Linked DNA regions of Homo sapiens: region 1 is linked to region 2. Evidence: fine-mapped expression QTL. A gene starts in region 2. The other region holds a variant in brackets. All regions are shown on one strand. Distances are between the middles of the regions.

What was found. PIP is the estimated chance that this variant, and not a neighbour inherited with it, causes the effect. A credible set is the group of variants that fine-mapping cannot tell apart.
Region 1: its variant is the best candidate, but not a certain one, in a credible set for the expression of SBNO1 in fibroblasts (GTEx, PIP 0.55).

The regions. Positions count from the first base shown.
Region 1 is chr12:123,224,073-123,228,460 of GRCh38, forward strand. It overlaps MPHOSPH9 (M-phase phosphoprotein 9), which reads right to left. Exons shown (of 24, transcript NM_022782.4): 3 at 3,391-3,544. Among named protein-coding and RNA genes, the nearest start is that of MPHOSPH9, 6.9 kb to the right of the region's middle. The variant TATA/T (reference allele first, on the strand shown) is at 2,159.
Region 2 is chr12:123,362,683-123,367,070 of GRCh38, forward strand. SBNO1 (strawberry notch homolog 1) reads right to left here and starts at 2,165. Exons shown (of 32, transcript NM_001167856.3): 1 at 2,019-2,165. MIR8072 (microRNA 8072) reads right to left here and starts at 2,161; the gene lies at 2,082-2,161. SBNO1-AS1 (SBNO1 antisense RNA 1) reads left to right here and starts at 2,266. Exons shown (of 2, transcript NR_157806.1): 1 at 2,266-2,433; 2 at 2,843-3,122. RefSeq lists enhancers at 831-1,549, 1,206-1,255, 2,716-2,925 and silencers at 1,736-1,845, 1,886-1,965, 2,076-2,315, 2,446-2,545.

The DNA of each region.
Region 1 (4,388 bases), 140 kb before region 2:
TACAGACATGTGTCACCATGTTCGGCTAATTGCTAATTTATATATATATATATACACATTTTTTTTTTTTTTTTTTTTTGGAGACAGAGTCTTGCTCTGTCGCCCAGACTGGAGTGCAGTGGCATGATCTCGGCTCACTGCAAGCTCTGCCTCCTGGGTTCACGCCATTCTCCTGCCTCAGCCCCCAAGTAGCTGGGACTACAGGCACCCGCCACCACACCCGGCTAATTTTTTTGTATTTTTAGTGGAGACGGGGTTTCACCATGTTAGCCAGGATGGTCTCAATCTCCTGACCTCATGATCCGCCTGCCTCGGCCTCCCAAAGTGCTGGGATTACAGGCGTGAGCCACTGCACCCAGCCGAATTTTCATATTTTTTAGTAGAGACATGGTTTCACCATGTTGGCCAGGCTGTTCTCGAACTCCTGACCTCAAGTGATCCACCCGCCTCGGTCTCCCAAAGTGCTGGGATTACAGGCCTAAGTTTTAAATTTAAATATGATGCAGTGATCTCAATGGGGAAGGAACTCCATGTTGGAAATCTGTGAGGTCACGGTCATGACAAAGCTGGGGGGACATCACTGGCATTTAGTGGGCAGGGTCCAGGCATGCGGATCATAGGGCAGTCCCCCATGATGAAGAATTGTCCTGTGTCCATTTTATGTTATAAAACAATAAATATTTCGCACAGTATTCATAACATCAAAACAAACTTAAGTTTCAAAATCTCATGAGAAGTTGGTCACCCTTTCAGAAAAGCATGTCACCAGTGGAGGTGCTGTACACAATACCTGGATCATCAACACACCATAGCTATATTGATCTGTGTTCAGCTGCTGAATTCACAGTGAGTACATACAGGTAAACATGACTACTTCATTATGTCTTCTAATGAACATGTGCCTGACATGGATATATCCAAATACATGTTATTTTACTGTAAATTTTTTATTTCTCCTTTATGTCACATTTAGGATAGTATATTGATTTTTTAAAGCGGGTAAAGGTAGGTTATATTACCTATGAATTTCATTTCAGGATAATATAAATTGATGTTATTTTGAAAGCTGTTATAAAAACAGAGCTCAGAGGCTGGGCACAGCGGCTCATGCCTGTAATTCTAGCAGTTTGGGAGGCCAAGGTGGGTGGATCATTTGAGTTCATGAGTTCAAGACTAACCTGGGCAACATAGCAAAACCTTGTCTCAACAAAAAATGCAAAAATTAGCTGGGCATGGTGGTGTGCACCTGTAGTCCCAGCTACTTGGGAAGCTGAGGTGGGAGGATGGCTTGAGCCCAAGAGGTTGAAGGTACAGTGAACAGAGATTGTGCCACTGTACTCCAGCCTGGATGACAGAATGAGACCCTATTTCAAAAAAAAAAAAAAAAAGAAAGAAAGAAAAGAGAGAGAATGAAAGAGGAGAAAAAGAAACAAAGAAAAGGAAGGAAGGAAGAAAGGAAGGGAGGGAGGGAGGGGGTGGGAGGGAGGGGAGAGGAGAGGTGGGGCAGGGAATATATTCTGATTCTGACTTAAGATGCTAATGTCAAAAAAAAAAGGTTGATTTCTAATTATCAAAAGTAACAATTTCTAGTTAAACACAAATTTTCCAGAAGTTAAAATACATTGTGGCAATGCCTCCTTTGTCCTAAAGCATGTTAATTCAGTTATCAAAAGCTAATAAGGGCTAGCCACGGTGGCTCATGCCTGTAATCCCAGCACTTTGGGAAGCCAAATCAGGCAGATTACCTGAGGTCAGGAGTTCGAGACCAGCCTGGCCAACATGGCTAAACCCCTTCTCTACTAAAAATACAAGAATTAGCTGGGCATGGTGGCGCTCGCCTGTGATCTCAGCTACTCGGGAGACTGAGGCAGGAGAATCACTTGAACCTGGGAGGCAGTGGTGGCAGTGAGCCGAGATCGCACCATAGCACTCCAGCCTGGGCAACAGAGCAAGACTCTGTCTCAAAAACAAACAAACAAATAAACAAAAAGCTTATGAGTAGATACATTAAGGGAAGCATTTAATATACTTAATAAAACATTCCATTTTTAATTGCATTTGCATGGGCATTTTTAAAGGTCTTTCACGTTAGTGCATACTGATTATTATATGCAAACAAGCATAAAGTATAAAAACTGAAAACTCAATTTTTTAAGCA[TATA/T]ATAATACTTTTTTATAATTTCAATAATTATGGATAATGGATATAAATAATTACACTTAGCAGTTGCTGCTATCGAATTCTTAAACCAGGTAATCTTTCATTTCGCTTACTCTACATTCTGAAAAATAACACAAATTATGCTTCTAAAAGTACAATTAACGTTTAAAACAAGATCTAGTGCTTTCTAAGAATTAATAATGGTTTAAACATTTCTATAAAAAACTATCAAATCCAGCCTTAGGAAAGTCTATCTTGAGCATTATCCTATGAAATAAAATTTATATATACTTTTTTTTTTTTTTACTGAGGGGGTCTTGCTATGTTGCCCAAGCAGGTCACAAACTCTGGGCACAAGCTATCCACCTCTGCCTCAAGTGCTGGGATTACAGGTTCTCTTTTTTTATATATAGAGAGAGACAGGGTCTCAGTCTGTCACCCAGGCTGGAGTGTAGTGCTGTGATCATAGCTCACTGCAACCCTGACTTCCTGGGTTGAAGTGATCCTCCCACATCAGCCTCCCAAGTAGCTAGGACTACAGACACCGTGCCACCATGACCAGCTAATTTATTTATGTATTTATATTTGTAGAGACAGGGTCTCGCTATCTTGCCCAGGCTAGTCTCAAACTCCTGGCCTCAACCAAACCTCCCACCTTGGCCGCCTAAAGTGCTGGGATTACAGGCGTGAGCCACTGTGCTCGGCCATGTAAGTATTCTTTTAACTGTTACATTTTTATATCACAATTTAACCTATGAACCAAAGAAAGAACCACTGATCTGAAAACAATATAATGCAATGTATCACAGCTGAATATGGTAAGGTACTAAATAGAAGCTTCAATTTATAATTAGAACATTGAAAATATTTCAAAGTGGATTTAGGTTTTTCAAAATGATGACAATTCCATATAAGTTACTGACAACATTACAATTAGTAACAATTTTAATAATTTTGGGATTCTCAGGTCTCTGAACCAAGACAATGTTTTAGTTCATATTTAATATACAAATTAGTATGTCTAATCAGTAATATATTGTTAAAAAATACTTTTGATCACCTTTTTCCCATTCATTCAATATCATTCCCAAATTAATATACTTGACCACTTTAGCATTAACTTAAAAGTGTCATGCTCTTCAGGACATAAATTTCTAATAATTTAGAGTTTAGTAGAGGTATGTTTTAACATAATTATTTTAAAATTCCAAAAATAAAACAAAATTAGATACCTCACAGTTTTTCCAAAGTTCCGAATCAGTCTTTCCACTGTTTTGTAGCTCTTGCATTAAAGAAGTTAGGACTTCAACTGTACCTTGAATTACAGATGGTCTGGTCTTCCCTGAGAAAGAGGATACCCCATTTGTACTAAGGTGGGGACTACTTCTGTTGAAACATAAATAATTCAAATGGTTTTCTTCATTCTATCAAAGTGTTGAATAATTCAGCAGTTCAAGATTTAGCAGAGCAGTACAAAACCACTGACATTTAATCCTTCTAATGGCACCTCATTTGTTCAAAATCTGATCACAAGTTGCTCCACAAAAGGAAACGGCCAGTAAAAAGACCGCACTGTACTCTTTTTAAGAACACAACAAGAAGACCTTCTCCAGAAGTGAGAGAACACTCCAAAGGATCGGCAGAAAATAGAAAAAGTCTGTGCTAAACAATAAGATTAATTTCCAGCTTCTCTGATCTCAGCTATTCCAGAGGATTATTTCCCCCAACTTTCAGAACAGCCCTTCATTGTGCAGTGGGGATTCTTTCCCCACTGCCCCAAATGACAGTCAAATCTTGTTCACTGGACACCCTTAATTTGGTACGATAAGCTGATGCTTATCTCTGCACTATCTCTGCATAAAAGTTGTGCCAAGCAAATCAGCAGCAAATATTCAGGACTTATTTAGCCTACTCAGTGTGTAAAACAGCACTGAGTTTTTCCAGGAGTACTGCTTTTCCAAACTTCAGGTAAGTTATTTCGGATTTGTTTTATAAACACACAATATATTTCAGGACATTAAAATGTACTTAAAATCTAGTCACCAAAAGATCATTTTAATTTATTTACTGCTTGATATCCTGCTTTCTTTCACAAATAATTTGTTTAAAAAAATAAATAAAAATAACAATAAAATAATAGTTAGGACCAGTGAAAATATTACTAAAAATTCAAAGGAGGCCAGGCGCAGTGGCTCACGCCTGTAATCCCAGCACTTTGGGAGGCCAAGGC
Region 2 (4,388 bases):
TGTTTGAACCCTGAAGGCAGAGGTTGCAGTGAGCCGAGTTCATACCACTACACTCCAGCCTGGGCAACACAGCAAGACTCCGCCTCAAAAAAAAAAAAAAAAAAAAAAAAGATTCTGAAGGGGCCAGGCACAATGGCTCATGCCTGTAATCCCACCACTTCGGGAAGCGGAGGCCAGAAGATTGCTTGAGGCCAGTAGCTGCCTCCCAACATGGTGAGACCCCCGCCTCTCAACAAAAAAATTAAAAAAAAAAAAATTAGCTGCTGTAGTGGTGCACATCTGTAGTCCCAGCTACTCCGGAGGCTGAAGTGGGACGATCGCTTGAGCCCAGGAGTTCAAGCTGCAGTGAGCTATGACCACGTCACTGCACTTCAGCTTGAGCAACAGAGTGGGACCCTGTCTCAAAAATTTAAAAATAGCATAAATATTCCAAACGCAATTATATGGAATAAGTTGGAATGGAAGATAAAAAGCAGAAGCCAGAGAAAAAAAGTAAAGTCGTCTCCCATCGGAAAAATTTTGGAAACAACTTCTTTAAAAGATGAGAGAAAATGTTCCCTTGCTTGCAAAATTAATGTCCCACTCAAGTCACCAGTAGGAAATTCTGCTATCTTCTGTGCAACGATGATAGCTTTCCCTACGCTTATGAAAATCAATTCTGATTGCTAGAAAATATGGTGGAAAATAGAATCCCTCTGTACTGTCAGCTCGCAGAATTATCTGAAAGTGTTAAGTCAATTCCTGCTAGGGCACTCCGGATGACAGTTCTCTGCACCCTTCTGGATGACTCTTTAGAAACCATATTCCATCCCTAATTCTGGCTGTCTAGAATATATGAAACATTTAACTCAACATAAAATGATAATAGCCAACTTTCAAAGGTCAAAGGGGACCAGTTTATAACCTTCCCTCAACACGTGTTCAGTACAAACTTCCGGGTGCACTTACAATTGGCTGCGCAATTCAATGGATAAAAACGTTGCTTTATTTGTCTCTCATTTTCTGGCCCGTTCTTTTCCCACGTTTCTCAACCAGCGACTCCCCAAAACAAAAGCCTCCCACAGTAAACCGAGCACGCACATAAAAAGAGCTTCTCTGTGCGAGGATCAAGTTAGTGGTCCGCAAACATTAACCAAACAGAAGCACAAAGCAGGGGTGGGAAGGGGAGGAGCTGGATGCCAGGGTCAGGAAAGAAACAATCAGAAGGGTTTAGGAACATCCAAATCTCCTCAGCGGTTAAACCGACCCCAAACCACTTCTGGGAAACCACCGGTATCCACTGCTTTGGGGAACTCTGGATGCTCGTTATGCCAAACGCTCTCAAAGTAAGCAAATCCCCAACTGCCGTTCCCCTCCATGGGTAATTCTTAGGGTCTGGGAGGTGAGCTCGCCCGCCGAGGCAGAACTAAGCGAGTCGCCTGGAGAGGCGTGAAGGGAGCCTGCACGTGTCCCCCGCGGCTTCCCCACCGCCCCAAGAGCGGGGCATGTACGAGACCGCGCTGTGGGGTTCAGATTTAGGAAGGACGACCGCGTCGCCTGCCTCCCTCCCTCGCCCAGAGCCGGGAGCAATGCTGGGGCACGAAAGAGGACTTGGGAAGGATCCGGTCCTTACTTTCCCCGCGGGTCCCGGACCCGCAGCCCCCGGGTTGTGAGGCGGAAGCCAAAGGGGCGAACCCAGCGGAGCCGGCGTGCACAGACCCTGCCCCGCGGTCCAAGAGGGGTGCCTCCGGCCCGGGACAGCGGGGCTCCCGGAGCCCGAAAGCCCCACGAGCGGCGACAGCGGGGCCCGGCGCTGACGAACAGAGGAAGCGAGTACAACGGAGCCGCCGTCGGGAACATGCCCCCGAGGGCCCCGGAGCGCGCGGCCGCGAGGAGCGGCAAGCGGCGAGGGAGGCCCCAAGCCGGGGCGAGGTGGCTGTCCCCCCAGCCTGGCCCCGCACGGCCCCCCGAGGGTGGGAGTGGGAGGCTGTCCGGGAGGGGGAGTGTGGAAGGAGAAAAGGGCCAAGGGAAGGACTTACTTTCCCCGCGGGACCCGGCGCCAGCACAGCTCCTCCCGGGAGGTGTGAGTTTGAAGGACCAGAGGCGACTGGAGCGGAGGCGGCGGTGGCGGCGGCAGCAGCGGCGTCCTGCTCTGCCTACCTCCCCGCCGCCATCTTGACGCCCCTCCCCCAGCCCCCCCGCCCCGCCGGGAGGGGCGGGGGAGGGGCAACGGATGAGGCGCCGCGCGCACGCAGCGCCCTCACGTGACTTCCTCCCTCCTCCCCCACCCGCCTCTCTGCGCCCCTCTCCGCCCCGCCTCCCTCCTAGGTGAAGGAAGATGATTTCCCCCCCATCTTGACCACCCCCCAGTCTTCGCCGCCAAAAACGGACTCCGCCGGCTATCCTCGGCCCGGTACCAGTTGTTGGATCCAAGAGAATTCCGGAACCCAAACGGTCCATTACCGCGGCTCTGGGGTGGGCGAGGGGTGAGGGGGCCGGGTTTCCGCGAAGGGGGAGGGGGAAGGCGAAGGCCACCTAGGAGAGTCACGTGACTACTGTTTCCGCCGGCGCTCACGGAGAGCTCGCGGTAATTCCGTTTCCCCGCCCTTTTTTCCCCGCGGCCTGTCGGGAAGAAGGTCCGCGTGCCAGGGCTATCGGGAGGTCGGCCGGAGGGCCGCGCGCATGCGCCCCGCGCCTGCTTTCAAACTCCGGTTAGGAAGGGCCTGGAGCTATTTTCAGAACCTGTTAGGGTGGGGAGCTACGGCCCAGGAAGTTACCTAGCAGCGTTTCTGTCACTTGGAAGATCTCTTCATTACCTAGTTAGTCCTAGAAACAAAATGTTTACATATTCATTGCTTGTTAGGCTCGCTCAAAGCACTTTATTGGCAGTGAAACCGCAAGTAACCCGGAGCCCTCGGCGCGACCACGGCTAGAATCAGAGCCTAAGGCGTGTGAGCTCAGCCATCCCACGTCTGTCTTCACGCTCATACGCAAGCCCGACACACCGGGGCTCCCACTTAATGAATACTGAAGAGTAGGGCTGTCCCTACCGCTTCTCACTTCCTTGTTTTCATCTTTTCGTTATTATTAAGCGACCTAACACAATAAACATATTACCTTGTTGGTAACCCTTTTGTAAAGTCATTCTGAAAGTGCTGTTTGACTCCGTTGCTTGGGTAATAAGCACGCCTGGGTGATTCTTGCCCCCTACTGGCTGCGCATCCTACAAGCCTAGTGCTGAAAGCAAACCAAGTAGCTGGAACAGTTGGAGGTTACAGTGTGAACTCTTCCAGAGACAAAGTATTCGGGGAAAGAAAGGAAAAAGTAGGCACAGAAAGAATAGGAAACTTCAGTGTTTGTACACATAGATATGTATTATATATCTATGTATACATTTATAAATATTTTTAAAGTGCTAACTAATCGCTTTACTAATTACATTATTTCATTTAATCCTCTCACACACATAGAAAAAAAACCTATAAAGACAAAAATAAAAAATATTTTAGGCCGGGCGCAGTGGCTCACGCCTGTAATCCCAGCACTTCGGGAGGCCGAGGTGGGCGGACCACCTGAGGTCAGGAGTTCGAGACCAGCCTGGCCAACATGGTGAAACCCCATCTCTGCTAAAAATACAAAATTTAGCTGGGGCTTGGTGGCGGGCACCTGTAATCCCAGCTACTCTGGAGGCTGAGGCAGGAGAATCGCTTGAACTCAAGAGACGGAGGTTGCAGTGAGCCGAGATCGTGCCATTGCACTGCAGCCTGGGCGACAGAGCGAGAATCCGACTCAAAAACAAAAAACAAAAAAAACCTTAGGCACAGGCCAGGTGTGGTGGCTCACGCCTGTAATCCCAACACTTTGGGAGGCTGAAACGGGGATCTCAGCCAGGAGTTTGAGACCAGACTTGGGTAACAAAGTGCAACCTCATCTCGACAAAAAAACATTTTTCTTTTTGAGACGGGGTCTCGCTCTGTCGGTCGCCCAGGCTGGAGTGCAGTAGCGCGATCTCGGCTCACTGCAACCTCTGCCTCCTGGGTTCACGCCATTGTCCTGCCTCAGCCTCCCGAGTAGCTAGGACTTTTTTTTTTTTTTTTTTGTATTTTTAGTGGAGACGGGGTTTCACCGTGGTCTCGATCTCCTGACCTCGTGATCCACCCATCTCGGCCTCCCAAAGTGCTGGGATTACAGGCGTGAGCCACCGCGCCCGGCCCAACAAAAAACTTTTAATTAGCCAAGTGTGATATATAGTCCCAGCTACTCAGGAGGCTAAGGTAGGAGAATCACTTGATTGCCCAGAAGTTTGAGGCTACAGTGAGCTATAATCGTGCCACTGCACCAGCCTGGGTAACAAAGCGAAACTATTTTTTTAATTTTTTTTTTTTTTGAGACATAGTTTCACTCTTGTT